Regions from separate parts of the Homo sapiens genome. Here all the other regions are linked to region 4. The links come from fine-mapping of genetic effects on gene expression. A gene starts in region 4. Each other region holds a variant in brackets. All regions are shown on one strand. Distances are from middle to middle. Region 1 overlaps ENTPD5 (ectonucleoside triphosphate diphosphohydrolase 5 (inactive)). Region 2 has its middle 17 kb from the start of VSX2. Region 3 overlaps ENTPD5 (ectonucleoside triphosphate diphosphohydrolase 5 (inactive)). Region 4 holds the start of PTGR2 (prostaglandin reductase 2).

What was found. PIP is the estimated chance that this variant, and not a neighbour inherited with it, causes the effect.
Region 1: its variant is the best candidate, but not a certain one, in a credible set for the expression of PTGR2 in subcutaneous fat (TwinsUK, PIP 0.71).
Region 2: its variant is the best candidate, but not a certain one, in a credible set for the expression of PTGR2 in lung (GTEx, PIP 0.59).
Region 3: its variant is the best candidate, but not a certain one, in a credible set for the expression of PTGR2 in tibial nerve (GTEx, PIP 0.57).

What each region holds. Positions count from the first base shown.
Region 1 is chr14:73,964,401-73,972,197 of GRCh38, forward strand. It overlaps ENTPD5 (ectonucleoside triphosphate diphosphohydrolase 5 (inactive)), which reads right to left. Exons shown (of 16, transcript NM_001249.5): 14 at 7,452-7,508; 15 at 5,610-5,725; 16 at 1-2,614. The coding sequence ends at 2,528. Among named protein-coding and RNA genes, the nearest start is that of COQ6, 18 kb to the left of the region's middle. The variant CT/C (reference allele first, on the strand shown) is at 4,025.
Region 2 is chr14:74,218,308-74,226,104 of GRCh38, forward strand. No RefSeq gene overlaps it. Among named protein-coding and RNA genes, the nearest start is that of VSX2, 17 kb to the right of the region's middle. The variant C/T (reference allele first, on the strand shown) is at 3,878.
Region 3 is chr14:73,998,475-74,006,271 of GRCh38, forward strand. The region is part of intron 3 of ENTPD5 (ectonucleoside triphosphate diphosphohydrolase 5 (inactive)); the gene reads right to left. It also overlaps the pseudogene RPL41P4. Among named protein-coding and RNA genes, the nearest start is that of ENTPD5, 17 kb to the right of the region's middle. The variant C/G (reference allele first, on the strand shown) is at 4,450.
Region 4 is chr14:73,847,912-73,855,708 of GRCh38, forward strand. PTGR2 (prostaglandin reductase 2) reads left to right here and starts at 3,920. Exons shown (of 10, transcript NM_001146154.2): 1 at 3,920-4,032. RefSeq lists a silencer at 3,654-4,056 and an enhancer at 3,666-3,715.

The DNA of each region.
Region 1 (7,797 bases), 120 kb after region 4:
ACAAATTGGTTACTTCTCCAGAAGGTCTAATCAAGGTTAACAAAATAGGTAAGTTCGTGGAGTTAGAATGCATCTTCCCTGGAGTTCAGAGGTATTTGGGATGACCAAAGGAGTCTGCTGGACAGTATGTGTGTTTTACAAAATGGCCCCCACAGTGATTAAAGACCAGAGACTTATATCTCTGCATTTGTCAAGCTGGAACAGTCTTTAGTGAACACAGCTTACCTCTTTTAAAACTGCTGGTTTCTACTGAAGGAAACATGGATGACATTTAGTGTTCTGTGACTGGTCTGGCACCCTACTTTTGTTGACAAAGATGGGAAGGGGTCTAAAAGTCATGTCACTTATAAAAGAACTTGGGAGGAACTTTTTTCAAAAGATCCAAAGATTTTGGAAGGAGAGATTAGAGCAGAACTAAGACCACTTAGAAGATAGGTAGATTTCAGCTCAATATAAGGAATTTTTTTTAATATCAGTGCAGTTCCAAATGGAATAAGCTGTTTGAACATGGCTTAGCAGAAGCTGAATGACAACCTGTTAGAAATTCTAGGGAATTCTGCACTGAGTACAACATTGGATTATTTCTTTGGGCTGTTTCCAACTCAAGATTCTGTTATTTCATTATAAGCATTTTGAGGAAGGCAGTTGGTATAAAGGTGACCTTAGTAATAAAAGTCAGTGTGAAGTCTAAAGAAATTCCACAATGAATTTAAAGACAAGAATTTTAGGGACAAGGATACAGAAATTTGCCTAGTAACTTGCACACAGCAGATGGTAAATATTTATTGACTCAATGGAGTAATGTTAAAAATAAGGTTTCCCATGGACTGTGTGAGGGCCAGGCATACTTAACATCCTTTGTGAGAGAGAGGATGGAAACGGAGTCTACTGTGAAAGCCACAAGTTTTGGGGAAATACACTCCTGCAAAGAAGCTGGAGGTTAACAACCAAGGCAAAGGGGCCAGACCACAGGGAGATCTTCCAGGTCCAAGAGCACTGCAGGGCAGATGAGAAGCAGGGATGATTATGTTGAAAGTGCAAGATAAGGCCAGGCGCGGTGTCTCATGCCTGTAATCCCAGCACTTTGGGAAGCGGGTGGATCAATTGAGATCAGGAGTTGGAAACCAGCCTGGCCAACATGGTGAAACCCCATCTCTACTACAAATACAAAAATTAGCCAGGAATGGTGGTGGGCACCTGTAATCCCAGCTCTTCAGGAGGCTGAGAACAAGAATCGCTTGAACCTGGGGGCGGAGGTTGCAGTGAGCTGAGATTGCGCCACTCCACTCTAGCCTGAGCAACAGAGCAAGACTCCATCTCAAAAAAAAGTGCAAGATAATGAATTTGGGGTAAATAATTCACAGTCAAGAGCTCTGAGCACTTGGATTCAAAAAGAGAGCATGAGGGACATTAAATATGGTTCTCCCTGGAAATGTTGGTCCACTGTACTGATGTGGGCTGAGAGAGCCAACCAAATCCAAGTGGGGTTTTGTCAGGAACGGTATTGGAAACTCTGAACTAGATAAATAATTCAAAGGATATTAGCTAAAGTGATCAGGGACCAGGACAGGAAGGTACTGTTACAAACGGAGAGAATAAAAGGGCAAACTGAAATAATAGATCCTGGAATAGCACAGACACTGACCTCTGACCACAGACCAAAAGTTAGGGCCTAGTTGTATTTCTTAGAAATACAAAGAAAACAAGTTTAGAATCATAGAAAACACTGTTAACACATTAGCCTGGGAGGTGGTACTGGCACTGAATATACACATACCCATAAAGTCGGATATGTTCATTAATCCCAGAGTTGACTGATAAAATGCTGATTAAAGCAAAGGTAGGCTATATGAGGCAGCCACACCCTCCCAAAACATGTCCCCAGAGACCGGGTGGCCTTCTTTCTTAAGGCTGTAATTTATGCACAGTTAGGAGTTACTCTCTCATCCTATTAATATTTAGGATGGCTCTCAGCTGGCTGATTGGAGCTAACACAGAATAGGATCATACAGATTCTGACATGGTCCCATTTTGCGTTGTTGAATTATACATGGAAAGCAAAACCAGGTTTTTTTTTTTCTCTCTTTTTCAGGGGAGGTGGGTGCAGATAAGGGTGGGCAGGGCACTGTATAGGGAGGAAAAAAATACTGATATTGATGGGTCTTGGGATTGCAATAAGTCAGTTTACCATTTAAGAGGAAAATTTAAATATTCAGTGGAATGAGGCACTCAAAGGGTTGAAATGCGATTTTTCTTTGGTTTCCAGGGACCTGTCCCTGGGCTCTCACTCCAAGGTTAAGTTCCAAAACTATACTTTTTGGCTCACAGGGCTCTCTGTGATGCTCTGGTGCCAGCTGTGTACTCTTGAGTGGTTAGGCAGCAGTTCACATTAGATGTGTAAAATTAATTAAACCTAAATCTCTAGGCTCAAGTCCAGGATGTCCCCAGACTAGTTCAGAAACTAAGTGCTCTCTCCTCCCCTTAAAAAGGTGTTGGCAAATGCAGGTCTCCAAGGAAGTACGTGGCCTCAATGGGAGATGCCCAGAGACTGCAACAGGTGAAAGGTGGCCCCCAAGGCCCAGCCCGTCTCTATGTTGTTCACTTTCTTTGTGAGCTGTTGAGAAGAAAAAAAGTCTTCACCTTTTCATCCAGTTTCCAACTCTAGCAAGCACAGCTCTTGGGCAGAAAATATTGGCAAAGAATATCCACATGGGCAAACCAAGGCAAAACGGACAGAAGCCAGTCTTTGCAGGCTTCCCACTACTCTGTAACAATTTCCTTCCGGCCATGGCCCATTGGCCATTGCCCCTACACCCACCATTCTCATATCTGAACTGAATGCTTCTGGCCCAGGTTGTGGCCCATCAGGCCTTCTAGAGAGATAGTTTAGACAGACAGTATTCTGAACTTTCCCTAACGTTGAAACTACACAAAGTATCCCCTGCTTTATTTTCTGATTCACTAATTTCAGATAAGGCAACTTGTAATGATAATAGATGTGGCAGAAAGAGCATGGTCAGGAGGTGAGAATAGATCTAGGGGTAGGAAAGAACAAACCAAGCTTCTCAACTCCTACTATGTAAGCAAGTGCCTCTTCCTAAGCACTAATAATAACCAAACATGGGGCCAGGCGCAGTGGCTCATGCCTGTACTCCTGGCACTTTGGGAGGCCAAGGCAGGTGGATTGCTTGAGGCCAGGAGTTCAAGACCAGCCTGGGCAACATGGCAAAACCCCGTCTCTACAAAAAAATTAGACAAGAGTGGTGGCACACACCTGTAATCCCAGCTACTCAGAGGGCTGAGGTGGGAGGGTCACTTGAACCCGGGAGGCAGAGGTTGCAGTGAACTGAGATCATGCCACTGCACTCCAGCATGGGTGACAGAGCAAGACCCTGTCTCAAAAAAAAAAAAAAAAAAGAAAAAAAAAGAAACGAACAAAAAAGGCCAGGAGTGGTGGCTCATGCCTATAATTCTAGCACTTTGGGAGGCTGAGGCGGGTGGATCACCTGAGATCAGAAGTTTGAGAATAGCCTGGCCAACATGGTGAAACCCCGTGTCTACTAAAAATACAAAATTAGCCAGGCATGGTGGCGCATGCCTGTAATCCCAGCTACTTCGGAGGCTGAGGCAGGAGAATCAGTTGAACCCGGGAGGTGGAGGTTGCAGTGAGCTGAGATTGCACCATTGCACTCCAGCCTGGGCAACAAGAGCGAAACTTGGTCTCAAAAGAAAAAGAAAAGAAAAAAATAATCAAACAGGGAACTTAAGACATTCTAAGCCAGTACATATCTCAATTAGCTTAGTGACCTTGGGCAAAACTTTAGACCCAAATTCCTCAACTATATAAGAAGAGGATTAGATTAGTGTTTATCGGTTTATCAATTTGTTTTCTTCAGAATTTTAGGGGTTTCTTAGAAATGCTTCGAAGGAAAAAGGGAGGCCAAATGATAGAGGAGTTTCAGGCCCCCAATCTCTGCTTCAACCAGAATAGTTCCACTTTTACCAGTTTTATATTACTGATACT[CT/C]TTTTTTTTTTTTTTTGAGACGGAGTTTCGCTCTTTGTTGCCAAGGCTGGAGTGCAATGGTATGATCTCTCCTCATTGGAACCTCTGCCTCCCAGGTTCAAGTGATTCTCCTGCCTCAGCCTCCCAAGTAGCTGGGATTACAGGCACCTGCCACCACGCCCGGCTAATTTTTGTATTTTTAGTAGAGACGGGGTTTCACCATGTTGGCTAGGCTGGTCTCGAACTCCTGACCTCAGGTGATCCGCCCGCCTCAGCCTCCCAAAGTGTTAGGATTACAGGCGTGAGCCATCAGGCCCGGCTGTATTACTGATATTCTACATAAGTTTTTGTTGGATAAAGATGCTACCACCACCAAAAAAGTCTATAAACCAGTTGATTGTTCTGTGTTGACCTGATGTAATAGAGCCTAGACACTGTGCCCAAAACTGGGGATAAATAACTTACTACAGATAAAGTAGAGCCTGCAGGTACTGAAACAGATGGAGAGAGACAGGAGGACAAAGAAAGACCTAAGATTCAAGAGGCATTAAATATACGAGGCACACATGAAATATATATGACACATTACATATGCATGAGGCATTCAGTGTTCATGAGGCCTTAAATAAGCCACTCACTGGTGACACCCTCTTGGTCTCTCATGTCCTCTGCCAAAGAAAACCCATCTTATAGGCTAATGACTGAGCTAATGCAAATGGCCATGTGTGTGTGCCCCTGGGGCCTCTCCAAATAGGGCAAGTTTGTGTGGTGGCCTCAGGCACCTTTTGTCTTTGTGCTCCCATGACCGAACTTCAGCTCTAGTATGTGTAACCACTCTATTAGCAGCAGAGACAGGCAGGACATATAAACCTAGGACAAATGGAACCCAAGATTCAGAGAGTGTGGCACTTGCATCCTGCTTGCACCGTGTCTTCTGTGTTCACCTCTCCAACTCTTTCCCCTTGCTTCTCACCCTGAGTTCTAAACTGATTTAATAAACCATGTGGGCCGGGTGCAGTGGCTCACGCCTGTAATCCCAGCACTTGGGAGTTCGAGGTGGGCGGATCACCTGAGGTCAGGAGTTCTCAGGAGTTCGAGACCAGCCTGGCCAACATAGTGAAACCCCATCTCCAATAAAAATACAAAAAAATTAGCCAGGAGTGGTGGCGCATGCCTGTAATCCCAGCTACTTGGGAGGCTGAGGCAGAAGAATCGCTTGAACCCAGGAGGCGAAGGTTGCAGTGAGCTGAGATCATGCCATTGCACTCCAGCCCAGGAAACAAGAGCGAGACTCCATCTCAAAAAAATAATAATAAATAAATAAATAAATAAATAAACCATGTGACTTGGCATCTTAATTTGGGCTGCTAGTCTTTCTGTTCTGTGACCTGTGCGATAGCTTGCCTGGTAATACACTCGGAGGCTACCATTGCATTGAGATAATTTCCCACATTCATGGTGCCCAGCACAGTACCTTGTCCATAGCCCAAACAAAAATACCTCATAATTTCACTTCTAGCTACTCTGATTACTGAACAAGCTCTTACTCCTTCTCAACCCCCACAAAAGAGGGCTGTTATGAGACTCTGGTGTCCTGTCTCTTACCTGTAAGACTGTGCTGTCTGCAAAGCCAAAGCCATCCTTTAACAGGGCTGTGATGTAGCTGAGATCCATGCACAGGAAAGGACTGCCTGAGGTGAAGTTTTCCAAGTTATCACACACTGAAAGAGAGAGTAAACAGTGGAGCTCAAGTTTGCAACTAACTGAGAGGTGTAGGATTTTCTCTTAGAAAGAAGTGGAATAGGGGCCAGGCGCGGTGGCTCACGCCTGTAATCCTAGCACTTTGGGAGGCTGAGGCGGGTGGATCACCTGAGGTCAGGAGTTTGAGATCAGCCTGGCCAACGTGGTGAAACCCCATCTCTACTAAAAATACAAAAATTAGCAGGGCGTGGTGGTGTACCGCTGTAATCCCAGCTACTCGGGAGGCTGAGGCAGGAGAATCGCTTGAACCTGGAAGGCAGAGGTTGCAGTGAGCCGAGATCTCACCACTGCACTCCAGCCTGGGTGACAGAGCAAGACTCTGTCTCAAAAAAAAAAGGTAGGGGGAGAAGAAGAATAAGCAAAGCAGAAGTCTCCCTTTGGTTAATGCTTAGGCATCTCAGAGACTAGACTGCACTGACTGCCTCTGTAAGACCGCAGCTTCTGAAGAACTTGCACATCTCTGGTATGATTATCTATTCACATTTACATGGGCTCTAGTTTATTTGCTAAGTTTCTATGACCTATTGTGGGGGCTTAGTTCTAAATCCCTTATCTATTATTAATGGTGAGGCCCAGAAGACAGGGAAATATCATTTAACCCTACTGTGGGCTACTCGATAAGATCATTTGTATTTTATTTTTTAATTTTTAAAAACTTTTTATTAATTTTTTTTTTTAGAGACAAGGTCTCATGCTGTCACCCAGGGTGGAGTGCAGTGGCATGATCACAGCTCCCTGCAGCCTCAAGCTCCTGGGTTCACACGATCCTCCTGCCTCAGCCTCCCAAGTAGCTGAGACTACAGGTCGAACCACTGTGCCTAGCTCTCTTGGTAGTTTTGATCCTCTCAAGGAAGCCTCTGTGGCTATTTACCATGTCTTTTGATGCTTAGTGTTTCATTAACACTGATAACACTATTTCAATTTAAAAAAGAAAGCAAGAAATGTAGAAGGAAAAAAAAGGTCTTCACCATTTCCCTAAAGCCCTAAAGCCTCTTTGTTTTTTTTTTTTTGAGGTGGAGTCTCACTCTGTTGCTCAGGCTGGAGTGCAGTGGCACAACCTTGGCTCACTACAACCTCTGCCTCCCAGGTTCAAGCGATTCTCCTACCTCAGCCTCCCGAGTAGCTGGGATTACAGGCGCCTGCCACCTTCCTTGGCTAATTTTTGTATTTTTAGTAGAGATGGGGTTTCACCATGTTGGCCAGGCTGTCTTGAACTCCTGACCTCAGGTGATCCGCCCACCTTGGCCTCCCAAAATGCTGGGATTACAGGCGTGAGCCACCGTGCCCGGCCTCCTAAAACCTCTTGTATTCCCATATTCTTGCCCATAATTCTATGCTGCATAAAGCTGAAAAAAAATTTATTTTTTTAGAGACAGAGGTCTCACTATGTTGCCTAAGCTGCAATGCAGTGACTGTTCACAGGTGTGATTATAGTGCACTATAACCTTGAATTTCTGGCCTCAAGCAATCCTCCCGCCCTGAGTAGCTGGGACTACAGATGCGTGCCACCATGCCTGGCTACCACCCAATGCTTTTAACTTTTAGCAAAGACTGGAAGACTCAGAAAGGAAACTAGCCTTCTGATAGGCCTTCTGAGCTGACTGAGGTGCTTTAGGTCACTTTAGGTCACTAGAGTAGGCAGGCAGTCTCACAGGCTTACCTTCAAGGGCTTCCCCTGACACTTACCTTCCCTGGCTTTTCTTTCAAAATCTTCAACTTTTAAAATACCCCCCTTTTCATAATCTGAAATAAAACAGAAGATTATCTGATATCAAAACGCCTTCAAGGAAGCATAAGGAAATTCATTCATTCATTCATTATATACACATGTACATAATGTAATCTATGCAACCTAATTTACTTATTTACAATCTATTCCATGTTATGTATATTTAACCACAATGGAAAAAACAGACCCATAAAACACAATAGGCCGGGTGTGGTGGCTCATGCCTGTAATCCCAGCACTTTGGGAGGCCGAGGAAGGCAGATAACGAGGTCAGGAGTTCAAGACCAGCCTGACCAACATGGT
Region 2 (7,797 bases), 370 kb after region 4:
CCCCTAGGCAGATGACCACAGCAGAAAAGCCTGTGGGGAGAAGAGGTGCCAGCCTGCCCCAAGGTGGGGGTGGAGGGGGCTGTTGGTGCCTCCCAGGATGGGTGACAGCTGCAGCCTTGGGTGGGAGGCCAGAGGCCCCACACGATAATAACTTTCACTCACTGCCCAAGAGCTAATCCCATTACTCTGCATGGACCCTCTGGGACCACCTCCCTAACCCCCCTTAATCCCCTGTCTCCCTCTGGGAATGGTCCAAGGGCCTCCCTGCCAGCCCATGCCAGCCCCAGGCACAGGCAGACCTTGCCCCTCAAGCTCTGTCAGACCACCTGTGCCCATGAATGCCCATCGTGCCTGATTCTTGGGGCCCCAAAGGGACAGCCAAGAAGGGTGGAGGTCCAACCTCTCTCACCCACCTTCCCTGCCATCCCTGACCCTGCCTGCCAGTCCCCAAGGCACCTTCCCAAAATAGCCTCCGGCTGGGATCCAGGTTTTCTGAGCCTCGTGTTCCTTTCTAAGCAGGCTTCTGGGGCTTGTTATCGTTTTTGTTGAAGGAATTGGCAGGAGAGAGCTTGGGTCCACAGTATATTCATCTGTAAAATGGACGCAATCGCCCCCAATTTCTATAGTCGTTCCGAGGATACAATGAGACACTATGAGACACGGAGGACACAATGAGACACAAGCCTCCGGAGTGTTATTATCAGTGGTACAGAGCTGTCTTCAGATATGCAAAGGAAGTGGATTTCTTTTGTGTGTTACCAGAAGGAAGCTCCATGGCCAGAAGGCAGATGTTAGAGAGGAAGATTCTGAAAGATACACACTGTCCTATAAGGGTGATAAGAGCCACCATGTACTTGTCTTGGTCTCTTCCTTAGGTGCCAGGCACTTAAGCTTCACAGCACTCTATGAGGTAGATACTGTCATTACCTGCGTTTTGCAGACGTGGGAACTAAGGTTAGGAAACGGCACACAGTGGTGGAGTTGGAATCAAAAACAGCTCTGACTCCAGAATTTTCTGGGGCATTCTGCCTCTCAGGATCTGCTTCTAAAAGGGGGAGCTGATGTCTGAGAGCCACTCCGCCCCCAAAGTAGTGAGCTTCCCATTTGCCAAAAGTGTTCAAGGTGATGCTGAGGGGCCACACCAGGAACCACCGGTCAGGAGCCCTGAGGTCCCATGGCAGCCCCCAATCCTCCCAGCATCCCCAGGCGCGGGTTTCCAGGAGGAGCCAGGCCACTGCCCCCTCCCCAGCCTGGACACAGAGGGGGCTCCGTTTGGCGCCCTGGGCCTCCCTCTCCCCCACCTTCTGCTGCTCCTCATTTACATAAATTATCTCTCTCCAATTATCCATCCAGCTGTCCCAACGGTGATCTGTGAATGAATTAAAAATGGAATATAATTTAATAATGGCTGATTAGAAGGAGATTAGTTGTTATATAAAAATGAAAAGCCAAGAGCCAGCTAGTTGCCCTTAATCTGAGCCAATACCATCGTTATTCCGGAAAGGCCCCCTGGCCACCATCAGGCAAGGCAGACACGGGGACAAAGACTGGGGGAGTGCCAGGTGGGGCTAGACCACCCCAGAGAGAAGATAGGGCACTGGGAGGCTGGAATTTGCAGCATCTCTGAGCTGTGGGGCGTGGGCATCTCCTGTGGCTTCCTTCAAAACAGGTTTGGGTGGCTTCTGGGGTCCCTTTTTGCTCTAAATTCTAGTCATCCTTGAATCAAACCACTGGGCTTTCCCAAGGCAGCCAATGACTTACACCAGACCCTGCTAGGCATAGGATCTGGGGTTCAGGAGTTTCGTTCCTGCTCAGGCCCCGCCTCTAAGAACACATAGCAGTAGGGAACACAGACTTCCCCTGAGGGGGTCTACCTGTCTAGGACAGGTGGTCAGAGAGGGTCTCAAGCTTGGTTGGTCCAGACGGTCCACGGAGGATGGACTGGCTGAGACAAAGAAGGGTGAGTGTGCCCAGTGGGACCTCTGGGCCATCTGAACCTCAGGTTAATGACTAGATCTAGTGAAGGGGACTAGTGCCTCTCCTCCAGGAAGTCTTCCCTGATCTCCTGGGCTTTGGGGTGTCCCCAGTGTTTCTACGATGCCCTGTGTTTTCTCCATCAGTGCACTGAGCACTGCCGATGGGGTGTTCAGGCCCCCGTTTGTGAGCTCCATGGCTTCTTCATGTCTGTATCACCAGTGTTGGGCACACAGTGGTTGCTCTACCACATCATTGAACAAATAAAGACACCACCTCCAAAAAGCCTCTGTGATTGCCCTAGTGTAGGTTATGCGCTCCTTTCTTTGCTCCCCAAACACACTGTGATTATGCCTTTAAAAATAAGGCAAGTCATTGCTGTGGAGAATATAGAGAAGGACAAAATTTTAGGTAAAGGTGGATAGATGGAGACAGAACAAAGTGGTTAAGAGGAGCAGTTTGGAGTCAGACTGCCTGCGTATGCATCCCAGGTCCACCTCTTATTGCTGTATGACCTGGGTGGGGCATGTTACTAATTTCTCTGTGCCTCAGTTTCCTCATCTATACAATGGGTGTATATAATAATAGTACCTACTCCATAGGATTTTGTGAGAATTAAATGGAAGCACTTGTGGCTCTTATAATGCTTGTCACACCGAGAGCCTCTCATCTCTGTTGATGGTGCTGGCTGGACAGTGGGCCTGCGCAAAGCCATCCCAACATCCCTGGCTGCTACTTTTACACTGCAGGGCCCACAGGGACACAACACTGTGGCGGGACCAGAATGTTTCACCAACCTCGGGCCTTCCTGAAGAGGCTCACAGCTCATGACATGCCCATGAGAGGGGTCTGAGCCCCGGGGCTCAGGTCTGGGCAGCGAGGCCTGTGTGACTGACATAAGAGGATGTCTGCTAGGCCTGAGCTTGCAGAAAAGGAATGAAAGGGCCGGGTGGCCAGAGGAGTTGGGCATGCAGACCAGGAAGGGAAGGCTGAAGAGCTCTCTGCAGCCGCTGACTCAGGCCTCAGGGGCCATCATGGAGCAGACAGCCAAGGAAATATTGTCCACAGTACCAGAGGCTGGGAATGAACAGGGTGGGCACCAGAGGAGGCTGATTCTCTCAAAATGAGAGGCAGTACAGATTGTGCACAGCAAGTGTTTGTTGATTGGCTAACTGAGCTGCACCGGATTTTTCTAAACTTTCTTAGTCAAGAAAATCTTGATTTCTTATGTTTGTAGAAGGGCCTGGGAATCCGCACATTTGACAAGAGCCCCCGGTGAGTCTCAAGAACAGGAGGTTTTGACCCCAAACTCCATCTGTCCCTCAGTCACTGCTGCAGTGCCCTCTGGCAGTGGGGGCTGACTGGTGACCCCCACCTTGCCCACTACCCTCTGACACTCACTCCCATCTCCACAGCCTCAGCTTCAGTCACTCCCAGGACAATCTCCCTGGTGAAGCCTGAGCACATCGGTCCATATTGCAGCCGGGGGAGGCCTCCCAGACCAGCCCAGGCTGTGGGATAATTTGATATTCAAATCCTGGCAAAGACCTGCTTCAAATTGCTGCAAATTAAGCTGATTTTGCCCCTCTGAATGAGGGATTTGCTCCTGTGGATCAACCCTCTTCCCAGGACTTGATGAGGTCAGGATTAGAGACGGGGAGAAAAAGCCTGAGGCCGGAGGCCGGAGAGCTGGAGAGCTGAGGGGCGGGGGGAAGCCGAGACCCTGGAGTTAGTGAAGGTTCCCAGGGTCTCAAAAGGCAGCTCTACCCAGTGATAGCAGAGCCTCTGAGGCCCAAATGGGTCAGCCCCACTCCTCCATCCCCCCAGGAGAGCACAGCTCTGTACTGTTCCCAAAGCAGTTTGTGGACCTCATCCAATCTTTCCAAGCACCTGTGACCCAGGG[C/T]GGAACCGATCACCCCCATTTTACTGATGAAAGGGGAGATGAGGCTTTATTGGCAAAGACAATCTGGACTCAACCACTGCCACCGACTTGCTACGTGACCTTGAGCAAGTGACCTCTCTCTGAGCCTCCTTGTAAGGATGACTGGCGATGCATACACAGTGCCAGGCACATAGCAAGCCCTCCATAGCATGGGCCAAGTTCCTAGCCAAAGCCCTGAAGCTAGAAAATAGCTGAATGGAGAACGTGGGGCTCTCTGGACCTCAGGAAGAGTCAGTCCCCTGCCTTCACCTGGAGGTCTGTGCCTTCTCCCAACTGTACCCCTCCTGATAGGACCTCCCCCATCCCTGGCAGAACCTCATTTCCATCTGTTTTCTCAGGGCCTGTACTGTATATTGCAGCAATTTCAAATGGCACCATTAAAGATTTTATGCTGGAGACGTTAAAATTAAAAAGATCTATGTGCAAAGAGTCACAACGAATTTAATCAACTTGATTTAATAGAAAACAGCAAATGGAATTTATGATGCTCCAAAAGACAAGGGAATTTTTTTTTCAACAAAAAATAATAAAAAGCACTTTGTGGAAAACAGAAAGTGGAGTGGGGTGGGGGTGGGGGCTCCCCATCTGAGAGTTGATCAGAACTTAATCCGCCGTGAACAACCCCAGTCGGGGCTGTTTGCCCACTAATCCCAGCTGCCATTAAAATATTAAAGATAAATCTAATCGTCTCTTTATCCAAAATAAGCGACTTTTGTGTGGGGAGAAAACATCTAACCCTTTGGGAGGAGAATTAGTCCTAATGCATCAAATGGAATTCGGTCCAGGCAGGGGCAGAATAGGGTTTACAGGCAAATGAGATGGTAATAGAAATAAAACCCAGAATAACAAATTAAAAACCCTCATTTACACGAATTAAAACAGCTCACAAAAGAGCCGGAGGCCCAGCCCTGCCCTCCTCGGCCCCAGGCCCATTCCCCCCTCCCCTGGTCTCACCCACCCGCAGGCCCCAGAGGAGCCAAGGCCTGACCTCATCCTTGCAACTTCTGCCCCACACCCTCCTGGATACTTACAGAAAAATGCACCCAACATCCGCTCTCCAAGACCAGGCGCAGGCTGGGTTTCTGAAGGCTCTCACTGAGTCTTCATTCATCTCCCCATCTCTCCTGCACCAGCTTTGGGGTCAGAAAGAACTTCATGCTTGTCCCAGTGCCCTCCCCTACTATGTGAGGTCTTGATTTGTTTCTATTTATTTATTTAAAATATATTTTTTAGAGACAGGGCCTCACTCTGTTGCCCAGGTTGGAGTGCAGTGACTCAATCACAGCTCACTGAAGCCTCAAACTCCTGGGCTTAAGTGATCTTCCTGCCTCAACCTCCTGAGTAGCTGGCACTACAGGTGTGCACCACCATGCCTTTCTATTTTTTTTTTTTTTTGGTAGAGATGGGATCTTGCTATGTTGCCCAGGCTAGTCTCAAACTCCTGGGCTCAAGTGATCCACTGGCCTCAGCCTCCTAGAGTGCTGGGATTAGAGGCTAGAGGTGTAAGCGACCACGCCTGGCCCTAGTTTTGTTTCTTAAAACCCCTGAGCCCCTATTACTTGGGGAAAATGAGGATAATAACGGCTCCTGTGCTCACACAGCCCTTCTCCCCAGCCTTGACCCCTGCTGCTGCTCCCTGGCCTGGCTCCACAGAATTTGATGAGGCAGCAGCATATGGAAGGCCCAGCACTGTGTCTGATCCACGGGGACCGCTCGATCACAAGCTCTCACAGAAGTCTCCCCCAAAAGGATTCTTAGTCAGCTGGGAGGAAGGACGCCTAGCAATGGGCCAGCCAGGGGGGCAGAAGGAGCAGGCAGCAGCCAGTTTGAGTAACTACGTGGGGTCACCCACTGGGTTGTCACTCATGGGGGCTGAGGCCAACCCAGATCTTCAGGGTTCTCCCTAAGTGGCCCCTTGCCCCCCAAGGTTGCCTCAAGTTTGGCCCTGTGGCTCCTCCTGTGTACCTTCCCCCGAACTGGGAACCCCTCCCCACCTTCTGCTCAAGGTCTGAATCCCTTCACATGAATATCCTGCTCTCTGCCTTAGTGGCTGGACGCTTCTCAAAGGAGATGCACGCTCCCTCAGGAGGCTCCAGGACCCTCTGCAAGCCATCACAAACTCATGAGGTCTTGGTACAGACAAGTGTGACAAACCCCTTCCTGAGAGCCTGTTTGGCTTGCTGAGGGGAGAGGGTGGGGAGGGGGCCCTTGTGCCCAAGTAACCCCCACCACACACACCCTACTGGAGTCCCCACACCAGGAGGGCCGGAATACACCTCTGACCTCCCCAGCCTTCCTAACAAATCCACTTGAACAGGAAACTCATGTTGACAGCATTCTATTATGGGATATTAAGTGGAATTGGATTGTGGGGCTAAACCTTTCCCTGGCTGGGTTTCTGCATTCGGTTGGCCTCCTCACCTCTGCGCCTACCACAGTCCTTCCCTCCAGCAGGGCTCGACGGGAGGGAGGGGGGTTTCCTGCCCACCTTCGTCAAATTATTCCCCCAGACTCTGTCCCCGACCCTTGGACTATGACAAATGGTGATTCTAGTAGCGATTTTCAAGAGAAAATTGGGCTGTGGCCGTGTGAGAGTGGGTGACCTTCTTCCCAACTTCTTCCCAGGATGGCTAAAAGAAAACACGAGGATGGCCAGGCGCAGTGGCTCACGCCTGTAATCCCAACACTTTGGGAGGCCGAGGCAGGCAGATCACCTGAGGTCAGAAATTCAAGACCAGCCTGGCCAACATGGTGAAGCCTTGTCTCTACTAAAAATACAAAAATTAACTGGGCCTGGTGGCACGTGCCTGTAATCGCAGCTACTTGGAGGCTGAGGTAGGAGAATCACTTGAACCCGGGAGGCGGAGGTTGCAGTGAGCCGAGAGTGCATCACTGGACTCTAACCAGGGTGACAAGAGCAAAACATCAAAAAAAAAAAAAAAAGGAAGGAAGAAAGGAAGAAAGAAAGAAAAGAAAAAGAAAAGAAAAGAAAAAAGAAAAGAAAAAAGAAAAGAAAAAGAAAACATGAGGAGATGGTGGGCAGGGTGGGATTTTTCCAGAGGGGTGTCCTAAGCCTGAGATTTGGTGGAAAAGCGTTGGGAGGAGATGGTCACAGGCAAAGGAGCTGGGGCCTCACTGCTGCAGGCTAGTGATCATTCTAGCTTCATAGTCCAGCCCCACTGCTGCCTCCTCTAGGAAGTTTTCCCTGCATGGCCCATATTAAAAAGGGGAAACTGAGGCATGGTGAAAGCTAAGTTCCCAGGTCACCGGCTAGCAGGTGGTAAATGGGGGACATGAGCCCAGGACCATGTAATTTAAGAGCCAGAGTCATTAACCACTACACCACGCTGCCTTGTGGGTGATCTTTTTATTTTTGGAGACCGAGTTTTGCTCTGTCACCCAGGCTGGAGTGCAATGGCTTGATCTCGGCTCACTGTAACCTCCAACTCCTGGGTTCAAGCGATTCTCCTCCTGAGGAGGAGAATCAGCCTCCCGAGTAGCTGGGACTACAGGCATGCGCCACCACACCAGGCTAATTTTTTGTATTTTTAGTAAAAACGGGGTTTCACCATATTGGCCAGGCTGGTCTCAAATTCCTGACCTCAGGTGATCCACCTGCCTCAGCCTCCCAAAGTGCTGGGATTATAAGCGTGAGCCACTGCGCCCGGCCCTTGTGGGTGATCTTGGCCTGGAGGAGATTGGGGAGAATGAAAGGCTGAAAGACCCAGCACCCACAGTGCGCGGGGGCCTGTCTGCATGCTTCATCGCCATCATGTCCCTGGGTCCTCTCAGTCTCACTGCAGAGCAGGTTTTCAAAAGAGATTCCCATTTTACAGAAGGAAAAACTGAGAATTGAAAAGGTTAAGGGAGCCCTTTCTCCA
Region 3 (7,797 bases), 150 kb after region 4:
CAGCCATTCCAGAAATTAGCAATTTCTTACTGCTGCTTACAAGTACAGCACACAAAGATAAATCATCTTAGAAACTTTAAGAAACCCTAAGAAACTATACTAAGTTGGAAAAAAAAAATACATGTCCATAAATTACCTCTATAAAGTGAAAATGTGTCAAGCAGCACAGTTACTATGCTCTGAAACTTCAAAGCTGGGATGATGGAGAAGGCTCTGTGAAAAAGGTCGTATCTGAGGAGGGTCCTGAGGAGGGAAATGAATTAGGACAGGCAAGGAGTGCTTTTCAGGAATAAAACCATGAATCAAGACACGGATGTGGAAAAGGGATGGGGGCCCCTGAGGAACAGTGAATGGATCAGTTTGACCAACTATAGTAGAAAATAAAGTTGAAGAGATAGATTGAGGTCACATAGTAGAGGACACCAAATACTCAGCTAAGGAGTTTGGACTTTACTCTGCAGGTGATAGGAAGCCACTGAAGATATTGAACTAGGGAGTATCCAAATACGAATCTGGTAGTTACATGTAAGGACTGCAGTCAGGAGCCTTGTCAGGACCACTCAATTGCTTAATTCTACTAATGCTTACTGATGCCTACTAACTGCTAGGTGCCAGAAAAGTAAAGGTGAGGAAAACAGATCTTTTTATTCAAGATGCTGAGTCTGGCAGAGGTGGCAGACATATATAAAAATAACCGTAACTTTTTAAACTAAGCATAAAAATGGTAAAGAAGCTAGGCGCAGTAGCTCACGCCTGTAATCCCAGCACTTTGGGAGGCCAAAGTGGGTGGATTACCTCAAGTTAGGAGTTCGTGACCAGCCTGGCCAACGTGGTGAAACCCCATATCTACTAAAAATACAAAAATTAGCCAGGTGTGGTGGCATGCGCCTGTAATCCCAACTACTCAGGAGACTGAGGAACGAGAATTGCTTGAACTCAGGACGCAGAGGTTGCAGTGAGCCAAGATCACAGGATTGCACCCCAGCCTGGGTGACAGAGTAAGACTCTGCCCCCCACCCCCCCAAAAAAAACAAAGGTAGGCCGGGCACGGTGGCTCACTCCTGTAATCCCAGCACTTTGGGAGGCCAAGGTGGGCGGATCATGAGGTCAGGAGTTTGAGACCAGACTGACCAACATGGTAAAACCGTCTCTACTAAATATACAAAAATTAGCCAGGCGCAGTGGCGCGTGCCTGTAATCCCAGCTACTCAGGAGGGTGAGGCAGGAGAATTGCTTGAACCTGGCAGGCGGAGGTTGCAGTGAGCCAAGATCAAGCCACTGCACTCTAGACTGGGCAACAGGGCGAGACTCCGTCTCAAAAAAAAAGGTAAAGGGCCGGGCGCAGTAGCTTACACCTGTAATCCCAGCACTTGGGGAGGCCAAGGCGGGCGGATCATGAGGTCAGGAGTTCCAGACCAGCCTGACCAACATGATGAAACCCCATCTCTACCAAAAATTTAAAAATTAGCCAGGCATGGTGGCATGCACCTGTAATCCCAGCTATTCAGGGGTCTGAGGCAGGAGAATCACTTGAACCCAGGGGGCGGAGGTTGCAGTTAGCCGAGGTCGCGTCACTGCACTCCAGCCTGGGCGACAGAGCGAGACTCCATCTCAAAAAAAAAAAAAAAAAAGGTAAAGGAACAAAAACACAGGACTAACTCCCTAGAGGATTTGGAAACGCATCAAGAAAAGACATTTGAGACCAGGCACAGTGGCTCACGTCTGTAATCCTAGCACTTTGGGAGGCCAAGGCAGGCAGATTGCTTGAGCTCAGGAGTTCGAGACCAGCCTGGGCAACATGATGAAACCTCATCTCCACCAAAAATACAAAAACTAGTCAGGCATGGTGGAATGCACCTGTAGTCCCAGCTATTTGGGAGGCTGAGGTGGGAGGATTGCTTGAGCCCCCTGGGAGGTGGAGGTTGCTGTGAGTTGAGATCGCACCACTGTACTCCAGCCTGGGTGACAAGACTGAACCCCGTCTCAATTTAAAAAATATATATATAAGCATATATAAAAGAAATGGCTGGGCACAGTGGCTCACGCCTGTAATCCCAACACTTTGGGAGGCCGAGGAGGGTGGATCACCTGAGGTCAAGAGTTCAGGACCAGCCTGGCCAATATGGTGAAACCCCATCTCTACTAAAAATACAAAAATTGTCCAGGCGTGGTGGTGTGCCTGTAATCCCAGCTACTCAGGAGGCTGAGGTGGGAGAATTGCTTGAACCTGGGAGGCGAGGCTGCAGGGAGCCGAGATCATGCCACTGCACTCCAGCCTGGGCAACAGAGCAAGAACCTGTCTCAAAACAACAACAAAAAAAATGAAATGACATGTAAGCAATCATGAAAAATGGACAGAAATAACTACAGAAATAATAGAGACCAGATGTGTATAAAGACCAGAGAGATTAGAAAAAGATGATAGGAAAAGTATCGTTTGATTTCATTTAAAAATTTCCTCAAGAGCCATATGGAGTGGCACGTGACCATAGTCCCAGGTACTCAGGAGGCTGAGGAAAGAGGGTCACTTCAGCCAAGGAGTGCAAGTCCAGCTTGGACAACACAGTGAGACCCTATCCGTATAAAAATTAAAAATAGCGAGGCCAGGTATGATGACTCATGCCTGTAATCCTAGCACTTTGGGAGGCCAAAGTGGGAGGATTGCTTGACCCCAAGAGTTTGAGACTAGCCTGGGCAACATAGTGAAATGCTATCTCTACAAAATATTAAAAAATTAGCAGGGTGTGTCTGGGCGCAGTGGCTCATGCCTGTAATCCCAGCACTTTGGGAGGCCAAGGCAAGCGGATCACGAGGTCAAGAGATCGAGACCATCCTGGTTAACACGGTGAAATCCCGTCTCTACTAAAAATACAAAAAATTAGCTGGGTGTGATGGCGGGTGCCTATAGTCCCAGCTACTCGGGAGGGTTAGGCAGGAGAATGACGTGAACCTGGGAGGCCGAGCTTGCAGTGAGCCGAGATTGCACCACTGCACTCCAGCCTGGGCAACAGAGCAAGACTCCATCCCAAAAAAAAAGAAAAAAATTAGCCAGGCATGGTGGCGGGCACCTGTAGTCCGAGCTACTCGGGAGGCTGAGGCAGGAGAATCGCTTGAACCTGGGAGGCGGAGGTTGCAGTGAGCCGAGATCATGCCACTACACTCCAGCCTGGCGAGAGAGCAAGACCTCATCTCAAAAAAAAAAAAAAAAAAAAAAAAAAAAAAAAAAAGCCAGGCATGGTGGTACACACCTGTAGTCTCAACTATTCAGGAGGCTGAGGTATGAGGATCATTTGAGCCTGAGAAGTGGAGGCTGAGGTGAACTGTGATTGCACGGCACCACTGTACTCCAGCCTATGCGACAGAGTGAGACCCTGTCTCAAATAATAATAATTAAAAGCCAATGTCCTCAAGAATTTTTTATATGAATTTGAGAAACAAAAAGTAGAAAACTAGTGAAAGAGGATATAGAAGAAGAGGGTTAGCATTTAATGCAGAGGATAAAGATTGTGGTCAAAGAAACATAATCTGAGATTTTAAAAAAATAGTAACCAATATTTACGGAGATCTTAGTAGATGCCAAGCATGATGTTAAGTATTCTACATAGATTAGCTCATTTAATCTCACATTACTGCTCTGTGAGTTAGGTGCTATTATTAAGATTCCCATTTTATAAATGAGAAAACTGAGCTTAGAGAAACTAAGTATCTTAAGACCACATCGTAGTTAAATGAAATGAGCCAGAAATCAAACCCAGATGGTTTAATTCCAGAGCCACAGTCTTAACTAGTAGGCCACCCAAGAAGGATTATCTAACAGGGCTCTTGGAAAAGACAGATATGGGAGTGGGGAGGCGAGTGTAGAGCAGAGAATGGTCTGAGATGAGGCTGGAAAGTGAGACTTCCATCAGGATGTGAAAGTCTTACAGCAGTCTGACCTTCTTACATAAAATCAAGAGCTTATTTATTTATTTATGTAGAGATGGAGTCTCACTATGTTACCCAGGCTGGTCTTGAACTCCTGGCCTCATGCAATCCTCTAGCCTCAGCCTCCTGAATAGCTGGGATAACAGGGTTGAGCCACTGTGCCCAGCTAATCAAGAGATTTTGAAGATCTTAATTTCCTGCTGTTGAATACATTTCCAGAATCCGACCATTTCTGACCACTTCCATTGCTACCACCTTCGCCCAAGCCACTATCATCTTTCATGTGATTTGCTAATATTGTCCTAACAGATCTTCCTGCTTTTATCCTCACTCCCCTGGAGTTTGTCTCCTTTTAACAAACAACCAAAGTCATCCTTTAATATAAATTAGAGTATGTCTCTGTTTTATGCAAAATCCAGCACTGGCTCCCCATTTCAGAGAAACAAGGTCCTGAAAATAGCCTTCTGCTTCCATCCCCACTACATCTCTGACCCCATCTACTAATAGTTTTCACCTTACTCTCCC[C/G]CAACACTGACCTCTGCGCTTATTCACTCATGCCCCTGCCTTAGGGCCTTCGCTCTAAGCTGTCCCCACTGCCTAGAAATTCTTTTCCTATATATCCACTTGATGAATTCCTGCAACTCCTTCAAATACTTGTTTAAAAATCACTTTCTTATTGAGATCTACTTAATACTATAACCTCTCACCTTCACATGCTCCCACCTCTACCTGCTTTCTCAACTCCCCTTACTCTGATCCACTTTTCTTTTTTCCACACCACTTATCACATTCTAACATACTGGAAAGCTTACTGATATTTATTGTCTGTGTTCCTCTGATAGAATATAAGCTCCTCAAGAGCAGAAATCTTTTTGTTTACTGGTGTAACCCAAGAACCTAGAAGAGCGTCCAAGGTGGAATTCAATAAAAACTGACAATAGAAATGGGCTAGGGTTTCTCTCAGCCTTAGCGCCATTTTCTTGGAAACCTCTGCATCATGAGAGCTAAGTGGAGGAAAAAGCGAATGTGCAGTCTGAAGCACAAAAGAAGAAAGATGAGGCAGAGGTCCAAGTAAACCGCTAGCTTGTTGCACCGTGGAGGCCACACAGGAGCAGAAACATGGAATGCCAGATGCTGGGGATGCTGGTACAAGTTGTGGGACTGCATGCTATTGTGTAGAGCTTGTCTCAATGGATCCAGAACTTCACCGCCCTCTGATCGCTGATCACCTCTGAGACCCACCTTGCTCATAACCAAAACTGCCCATGTTGGTCCTCTGCCCTGGACCTGGGACATTCTGGACTATTTCTGTGTTTACTTGTGGCCGAGTATAACAACCATACGATAAATCATCTCTTCTGCTGTCTTAGCTGAAGAATCAAAAAAAAAGAAAAAGAAAAAAAGAAAAAAAAAATTGGCTGGGCATGGTGCCTCATGCCTGTAAATCCCAACACTTGGGAGGCTAAGGCAGGAGGATCACTGGAGCCCAGGAGTTTGAGACCAGCCTGGGCAACACAGCAAAACCCTATTAAAAAAAATTTTTTTTTAATGAAAAAATTAGCCAGGCATGGCAGTGCACACTTGCAGTCCCAGCTACTTGGGAGGCTGAGGCAGAAGGATCACTTAAGCCCAGGAGTTCGAAGCTGCAGTGAGCTAGAATCATGCCACTGCACTCCAGCATGGGTGACAGAGCAAGACCCTGTCTCAAAAAATAAATTAATTAAGTAAATAAATACATGTATTAAGCAATAAAAATATTTATTATCTCATCCCTTTTTTATTTTTTTGAGACAGAGTCTCCCTCTATTGCCCAGGTTGCAGTGCAGTGGCGTGATCTTGGCTCACTGCAACCTCTGCCTCCTGGGTTCAAGTGATTCTCCTGTCACAGCCTCCGAAGTAGCTGGGACTACAGGCACCCCCCACCACACCCGGCTAATTTTTGTATTTCTAGTAGAGACGGGGTTTCGCCATATTGGCCAGGCTCAAACTCCTGACCTCAGGTGATCCACCTGCGTTGGCCTCCCAAAGTGCTGAGATTACAGGTGTGAGCCATTGCGCCCGGCCTATCTCATTATTTCTGTGGTTTGGGACTCTGAGAGTGGTTTAATTAGACAGTTTTGGCTCTGAGGCTCTCATGAGATTGCAGTCAAGATGTAGGCTGGGGCTGCAGTCAATCTGAAGGCTTGACTAGGCCTGGAAGACCCACCTCCAAGATGGCTCACTCAATGGTTGGCAAGTTGATGCCAGCTGTGGGCAGGAAGTCTCAGTAGCTCCCCGTGTAGATCCTCCATAGGGCTGCTTGAATGTCTTTATAACCCAGTGGCTGGCTTCCTCCAGAGCAGTCAATCCAAGAAGAGCAGGGCAGAAGCAGTAATGTCTTTTATGACTTTGTTTTGGAAGTCATACACTATCATATCCCTATATTCTAATGCTCATACAGACCAACCCTGACGAACTGTAAAAGGGGACTACACAAAGGCATGAATATTAGGAGGTGAGCATCACTGGGGGGCATCTTGGAGGCTGGCTACTGTAAGCTGTAACCAGTATTTGTGTAATATTTTGTGGGGTTTTTTTTCCAGTATACCATATATATATTTCAATAAACACATCTTACATACTTCTTATTTTAGGACCTGCATGTTATTCCAATGATATTAACTGTTTTTGTTCATTTGTTTATTCTTAGAAAAAAATAATATATAGAAATAAGCCAGGTTAGCTGGGCATGATGGGACATGCCTGTAATCCCAGCTACTCGGGAGGCTGAGGCAGGAGAATTGCTTGAACCCGGGAGATGGAGGTTGCAGTGAGCTGAGATCGCACCATTGCACTCCAGCCTGGGCGATAGGGTGAGACTCAGTCTCAAAAAAAAAAAAAAAAGAAAAAAAGAAAAAAAGAAAAAAAGAAATAAACCAGGCGTGGTGGCTCATGCCTGCCTGGGTGAGAGAGCAAGACTCGGTCTCAAAAAAAAAGAAAAGAAATATAGGCAGGGTTTCACTATGTTTGTCAGATTGCTCTCAAACTCCTGGCCTCAAGCAATCCTCCACCTTGGCCTCTCAACATGCTAGGATTACAGGTGTGAGCCATCACATCGGCTGCTATTAACTCTTAAAAATGAACAACTGGCCAGGTGCGGTGGCTCACGCCTGTAATCCCAGCACTTCGGGAGGCTGAGGGGAGTGGATCACCTGAGGTCAGGAGTTCAAGACCAGTCTGGCCAACATGGTGAATCCCCATCTCTACTAAAAATACAAAAATTAGCTGGGTGTGTGGTGCACGCCTGTAATCCCAGCTACTTGGGAGGCTGAGGTAGGAGGATCGCTAGAACCCAGGAGGCAGAGGTTGCGGTAAGCTGAGATCATGCCACTGCACTCCAGCCTGGGAGACAGAGCAGGACTCCATTTCAAAAAAATAAATAAAAAACAAAACAAATAAACAAACAAAATGAACAACAATGCTGACTTGACTTTTAACTTCCATCTTCTGTTATAGTCCTAATATTTTACTTAAGGAAAAGAATTAAAGTCAGAAAAACTACAACTCACACAATGTACTTCTTGTTTCTAAAGGTGAAAAGAAATTTAAATACCTTTTTGTTTTTTTTGAGATGGAGTTTTACTCTTGTTCCCCAGGCTGGAGTGCAATGGCATGATCTTGGCTCACCACAACCTCTGCCTCCCAGGTTCAAGAGATTCTCCTGCCTCAGCCTCCAAAGTAGCTGGGATTACAGGCATACACCACCAAGCCCAGCAAATTTTGTATTTTTAGTAGAGACAAAGCGGGGTTTCTCCATGTTAGTCAGGCTGGTGATCATCTCAGGTGATCCACCTACCTTGGACTCCCAAAGTGCTGGGATTACAGGCATTAGCC
Region 4 (7,797 bases):
ATTTTTCTGAAAAAGCATTTATTTAAGCTTGAGTTTCACAGGATTCGGTTACAGCATTTTTTTTTTTTTTTTTTTTTTTTTTTTTTTTTTGAGACAGAGTCTTGCTCTGTCACCCAGGCTGGAGTATAGTGACGTGATCTGGGCTCACTGCAACCTCTGCCTCCCAGGTTCAAGCCATTCTTTTGCCTCAGCCTCCTGAGTAGCTGGGTTTATAGGCGCTCGCTACCATGCCCGGCTAATTTTTTGTATTTGTATTTGTATTTTTGTATTTTGTATTTTTAGTGGAGACAGGGTTTCACCATGTTGGCCAGGCTGGTCTCGAACTCCTGACCTCATGTGATCCGCCTGCCTCAGCCTCCCAAAGTGCTGGGATTACAGGCATGAGCCACCGAGCCCAGCCAGGTGTGGTTTTTATCTCTTACTTTGTTCTGTTATCTCTTTAGGATGTATGTTTGGGTTTGAATTTGTGTCATTATGAACAATTATCACCTCCATGGAAAAATGTTTTATTTAGCATCAAATAATCTTTGATGTTGCACTAAGTGTCATATACCATGCAGGTTGGTCAAACTTGAATGATTTCTCCTGAGTAATTTGCTATCATACGAGGTTATTTTCATTTAAAAATAATTTAATGAATGAAAAAACTAAAAAATAATTTAATGAATGAGTATACAAACATATTAGATTAAGTATTTATATTTATTTTATTTATTTATTTATTTCTGAGATGGAGTCTTGCTCTGTCGCCCAGGCTGGAGTGCAGTGGTGCAATCTCTGCTCACTGCAAGCTCTGCATCCCGGGTTCATGCCATTCTCCTGCCTCAGCCTCCTGAGTAGCTGGGACTATAGGCGCCCCCACCACGCTCAGCTAATTTTTTTGTATTTTTAGTAGAGACGGGGTTTCACCGTGTTACCCAGGATGGTCTTGATCTCCTGACCTTGTGATCCGCCCACGTCAGCCTCCCAAAGTGCTGGGATTACAGGCGTGAGTCACTGCGCTCGGCCAAGTATTTATATTTATTATGCATTTTTTTTTTTAAGAGACAGAATCTCATTCTGTTGCCCAGGCTGGAGTGCAGTGGTGCAAACACAGCTCACTGCAGCCTCGCCCTCCTGGGCTCAAGTGATCCTCACACCTCAGTCTGTCAAGCAGCTGAGACAACAGGCACACACATCACACCAGGCTAATTTTTAAAATTTTTTGTAGAGGTGGGTTTTGCCATGTTGCCTAGGCTGGTGTTGAACTCCTGGGCTCAATCGATCTTCCTACCTCTTGGCCTACCAAAGTTCTGGGATTACAGGTTTGAGCCACAGTGCCTGGCTTTTTTTTTTTTTTTTTTTCTTTTTTTGAGACAAAGTCTTACTCTGGCACCTAGGGTGGAATGTAGTGATGAGATCATAGCTAGCTGCAACTTGGAATTCCTGGGTTTAAGCGATCCTCCTGCCTCAGCCTCATGAGTAGCTGCTGGGACTGCAGGTGTGTGCCACCACACCTGGCTATTTTTTTTCTTTTTGTTTTTTTTTTTGGTTGTTGTTTGTTTTTTGTAGAGATAGGGGTCTCCTATGTTGCCCAGGCTGGTCTGAAACTTCTGGCCTCAAGTGATCCTCCTGTCTCGCCTCCCTAAGTGCTGGAATTATGAGTGTGAGCCACTGCACCTGGCCTATATTTATCATGCTTGAATGAAACAATATATACTATGTATTTTTTTTTGATAAGATGGAGATGAGAAGAATTGACACTTCCTTCTAGTGAAGTCTAGAAAATGATTCTCAGGGCTGGGCGTGGTGGCTCATGCCTTTAATCCCAGCACTTTGGGAGGCCAAGGCAGGTGGATCACCTGAGGTCAGGAGTTTGAGACCAGCCTGGCCGACATGATGAAACCCCATTTCTACTAAAAATACAAAAATTAGCTGGGTGTGGTGGCATGCACCTGTAGTTCCAGCTACTCAGTAGGCTCAATTGCTTGAACCCGGGAGGCAGAGGTTGCAGTAGGCCGAGATCGTGCCACTGCACTCCAGCCTGGGCGACAGAGAGAGACTCCGTCTCAAAAAAAAAAAAAAAAAAAAAGAAAAGAAAAAAGAAAAAAAAGAAAATGATTCTCAGGAATTGCTTGAACGATGAGAAGGAGGCAGTACAAAGTTCTGCAAAGAGGGAGGAGTAGGGAATTCCAGATTTATGGCAAATATAACAAAGGGTCAGGTGCTTGGACTCAGGCAGGATAACTTGCTCCTTTACTTATTAGTTACTTAACCTGACTTAGAACTTAACTAGCTTAACTTCGGTTTCCTCATTCGTAAAATGGTAATAATAATAATAGGGCTGTTTTGAAAATTAAATCATGTAGGCAAAAAATCATATAAGGCATTATCCAACTCAAACTACGCATTATGTAAATGATAGTAATCCTTGGTGTTAGAGAAAATTTAGAAGAAGAGGATAAACTGGATAGAAATGTACCTATAAATCCTCTACTCATCTCTTGAATTTTTGGGAACTCATTTTGGCGAGAAAAATCACACTTGTTACAAGGAGTTCACAGACCCTAGAATCAAGAGAGCTAAAACTAATTAATACACATACATATATTTAAAATTTTTGAGACAAGGTATCAGTCTGTCACCCAGGCTGGAGTGCAGTGGTGTGATCAAGGCTCGCTGCAGCCTACTGAGCAGCTGAGAGACTACCAGCAAGCACCACCACACCTAGCTAATTTCATTTTATTTTTTATTTTTTGAAGAAATGCGGTTTCACCACGTTGCCCAGGCTGGTCTCGAACTCCTGACTCAAGCAATCCACCTGCCTCTGCCTCCCAAAGGTCTGAGATTACAGGCGTGAGCCACTGCGTCCAGCCCCAAAACTAATTTAATATTGCAGGGCTTCTTTTCTATTTTGAAAGTGTTTCTTTTAAATCAAGTTCTAGATTACCTTTATTTTATACTACTACTTTTTGTCTATTTGAGCATTTTATTTTTCATCATTTGGTTTAAGTCATTACAAAAGGCATTGAAGGTCTGTCTACCTGTCCATGACAGATAAAAGAGATTAGCTCCTGTCTGAAAATGTTTGCAAAGTAGTGTAATTCTCCTAGTCCTTCCTGAAGCTTTCCCAAAGAAGCAAAAATATTCAGACATAAAGCTACCAGGAACTCCAACCTGTTTGATCACTATTCCCTTGCTCACCAACCTAGTCATCTTTCAGCTACTCCATGCATGACTTGTGCTGAGCTATTAGCTCCCACATGAATACAAGCAATTCTTATACCTGCCTAATTCAGATGATCTTTCTTAGGGTTTGAAGTCCCTGGGGATCCGAAGCTGTCCTAGGTATACACTTCTCTCAACCCAGTCCAGCACAAAAGGAGACGACTAACGATGAATGAAATTGAGAAATCAGCCCACACTGGTAATCTTGGAGGAATTTGGTATTCTTCGTGAAATAAAAGAGGCGCAAAGGGGCCCTGGATTAGGGTCCGGAGAGAGGGGTTTTATCCCAGCACTGCCCCTAACCAGCTGAAAGGTAGGTGGTCCAATCACATCAGCTCTCCGAGACTCAGTTTCCCCATCTATAAAACAAGGAGTAGGCTTGACGGTCCCTGTCTCACTATAATTTCCCAATCGAGGTTCAGGGAGAAATCCACAAAACTAATAAAACTTCTTCACGGACTGCTAAATGTGAACTCACTGGTCAAGGCTGCAAGATTTGCTCTTTGGGTCAAGGCAGTAGGGGCGGCCACAAGGAACCAATCTCAGTTAAGTTATTAATGCACTTTGCCCAGACTAGTAACTCTCCCCTGACGTTCCGCATTTCCCTTGCTTCTCCCGGAAACGTGGGGCGCCCAGGAATCCTAAACTTCCAATCCCTAAGCTTCCAAACCCCGCCCCTGGGAGGGGAGGGGGCGCGGAGCCGGGCCTAGTCGCGCGCCTGCGTACTGCGGTCAGAGGGCCGAGGCCTGGGGGCGAGCTGGGGTCGTGCAGTACAGCCTCTTTCCGGCAAATCACGCGAGATTTCGTTCACCCGGGCTCCACAGGGTCAGTGACGCGCGAGCGGCTCCCGCGACTGTGGCTCCCGAAGCTGCTTCGGGCCCCAGCGGTGAGGAAGAAGACTCTCAACCAGGGTGACTTCTAGGCGTCCTCCCGGAGCTACCGGGGACACTGGCGTTATTGCCCGCAACACTGAGATAGGGAATGCTCGAGAAACAGAAGCAGGTTTTGGGGTTTTTTTTGAATTACTGGGGGAAAGCAACCTGAGGTTTTGACGTAATTGTGTTTGAGGTGCCTCTGAAACTTTCATTTAACACAGATTTGTTGAGCACGTACCATGCGCCGGGCATAGGGGATTGGACTCACATTTTTTTGTGTGTGTGACGGAGTCTCGCTCTGTCTGTCGCCCAGGTTGGAGTGCAGTGGCGCGATCTCGGCTCACTGCAGCCTCCATCTCTCGGGTTCAAGCGATTCTCCTGCCTCAGCCTCCCGAGTAGCTGGGATTACTACTGCGCCCGGATAATTTTTTGTATTTTTGGTAGAGACGAGATTTCACCGTGTTAGCCAGGATGGTCTTGATCTCCTGACCTCGTGATCTGCCTGCCTCGGCCTCTCAGAGTGCTGGGATTACAGGCGTGAGCCATCGCGCCCGGCCTGGATTCACATCATTGAACAAAGCAGACGAGTCCTTATCCTCTTAGCGCTGACGAGCTGGGCAGTTAGTTTGAAATTCTGGGCTAGAGACGCAAATTATTATTAATTTCCATATAAAGTGGTTGGTAGGAGGAGCCACAGGGCTCAGGGAGGTCACTGAGAAAGGGAAGAGCAAGATAGGAATCTCCACATGCAAGACTTCGGGAGGGGAAGGGGGAGACCAGAAAACCGGAAGGGGAGGAGAAGACTGGCAGAGAGATCCAGAAAGACACGTGGTTTGTTTGTTTGTTTTTTGAGACAAAGTCTCGCTCTGTTGCCCAGGCTGGAGTGTCCTGGCTGGATCTCGGCTCACTGCAGCCTCAGTCTCCTGGGTTCAGGCAGTTCTCCAGCTTCAGCCTCCTGTGTAGCTGGGACTATAGGCGCCCACCACCACGCTTAATTTTTGTATTTTTAGTAGAGCGGGGTTTTCCCATGTTGGCCAGACTGGTCTCGAATTCCTGGCCTCAAGTGAGCCTCCCACCTCAGCCTCCCAAAGTGCTGGAATTACAGGTGTGAGCCACGGCTCTGGGCCCAGAAAGATACGTTTTATAACAAGGCGTGGTCAACAGGGTTGCTAGTGGCAGAATAATCGCACGAAATAAGGGTATTAAAAGGTATTAGGAAGCTCATGTGATGGAAATAGCAGGTGCCGTGTTGGAGTATGGGTTCTAGCGTTATTACAAGTTGGGCGACTCTGGGCGAATTATTCTCTTTCTGTACCTCTTTTTTCTTCTCTTTTTTCTTTTTTTTTGAGATGGAGTTTCGCTCTTGTCGCCCATGCTGGAGTGCAATGGCGTGATCTCGGCTCACTGCAACCTCCACCTCCCGGTTTAAAGCGATTCCCCAGCCTCAGCCTCCAGAGTAGCTGGGATTACAGGCGCCCGCCACCACGCCGGGCTGATTTTTGTATTTTTAGTAGAGGTGGGGTTTCGCCGTTTTGTCGGAGCTGGTCTCAAACTCCTGACCTCAAGTGATCTGCCCACCTCAGCTTCCCAAAGTGCTGGGATTACAGGCCTGAGCCACCATACCCGGCCCCTTTTCTCATCTATAAAATTGAGAGGATGATATTACCAACCTCACAGTTTTTTTGGGGTGAGGGTGGGGGAGGTGGTTTAAACAGGCTAGTGAATGAGTCTGTGCTCAGTTCCTGGCATTTAGGAATATTAAGGAAACAGGTTGAGAGAAGGGACTTTTTCCAAGTTCCCACCTGGTTAGAACTAGGAGAAGTACTCTGTTCTTCCTACTTAAATGACCTTTCCCTTTTACCAGGCTGCAAGGTAAACACTCAACACACTCTATCATCACATCGGAGCAAATTCGTCTGTTATTATTTTGGAATATTAGCACCAAGTAGGAATAGTATCCCAGGCAAATAGGATTTGCTGAGTTTTTTTCCCCTACTTGGGATGAATTTAACAATCTACCCTTCTTTCAGATCTTGGAACTTGATGTGTCTTATTTTAGCTGTTAATTTTATGACTAAATCTAGGTATCTATATTTTATTTATTTTTATTATTTATTTATTTTTTTGAGACAAAGTTTCGCTCTTGTCCCCCAGGCTTGAGTGCAATGGATCAGTTTCGGCTCACTGCAACCTCCGCTTCCCAGGTTCAAGTGATTCTCCTGCCTCAGCCTCCGGAGTAGCTGGGATTACAGGCACCCGCCACCACGCCTGGTTAATTTTTGTATTTTTAGTAGGGCAGAGTTTCACCATGTTGGCCAGGCTGGTCTCAAACTCCTGACCTCAAGTGATCCACCTGCCTCAGCCTCCCAAAGTGCTAGGATTACAGGTGTGAGCCACCGTGCCCAGCCAAGTTATCTATATTTGAAATGTGTGTTTTTTTGGTACTATTGAGGGATATCACACAATTATCCTATATTAATTGTAGTATTTGACACTTGAAAAGTTTCTAATTTAATGCAGAGTGAGAGAACTTTAATAGTATATTTTTCATGCTGATAAGCAGTGTTTGGACAAATCTATAATATACATATTAATATGTTAAACAAATAAAGCATACCATTGACAGTAATTAGAGGGCAAATATGATATTTCATTTGGAAAGACTGCTTTGAAAATTTAGCCATTATGGTTCTATTACTACTTAAGGACTTTTAGACCCACTTAATTTGGAAAACTTTGGCTTTTTAATCCTTATATAATTGACACATATGGTGATTCTGTAGAAAGTTTCCTTTTTAAAACATATGTAGCCCTACATGACATTATGGACCTCTTGGTGTGATGAATGGATGTGGCACCACCCTTAAAGATTCTTGCCTGAAAAATTGAACCTGAAGTAATCAAGCCTCTAGATGTAACTAGCAGTCATGGATAAGGGGAGGAGATAGAAGAAACATTTCCTTCTTTCTTTAAAAGCTAGTCATTTACCTTGTGATGGTAAATGACACCATGAGGAAGCAATCAAAGAACATTCTACAAGCAAAGTAATGAAGAAACAAATCAAGGGCATGAAATAAATGGAAGGGAGACTCAAACTGTAGTATGTGGACCTTGAATCCTGATTTTAATGAACCAACTGTAAAAAGACATCTTTGAAACATTTTTGAAACCAACTGTAAAAAGATATCTTTGAACATCCTGAAACGTCAGGAAATTTGAATATGCACTAGGTATTAGATGATGATAAGGAATTGCCAGTACTACTATTAGGTGTAATAATGGCATAGTGTTTATGTTTAAATCTGTGATGGCTGGGTTATAGTCATTTGCCATATAATGACGGTTCAGACAATGACAGACGATGAGCCTCCCATAACATTATAATGGAATTGAAAAATTCCTCTTGCCTGGTGATGTCATAGTCATCAGAACGTTATAGTGCAATTACTTTATTTTTATTATTTATTTATTGAGACAGGGTCTCACTCTGTCACCCAGACTGGAGTACAGTGGCGTGATCTCGGCTCACCGCAACCTCCACCTCTTGAGTTCAAGCAATTCTCCTGCCTCAGTCTCTGAGTAGCTGGGATTACAGGCGTGCACCACCATGCCTGGCTGATTTTTGTATGTTTAGTAGAGACAGGGTTTCACCATGTTGGTCAGGCTGGTTGTGAACTCCTGACCTTAAATGATGCACCTGCCTCAGCCTCCCAAA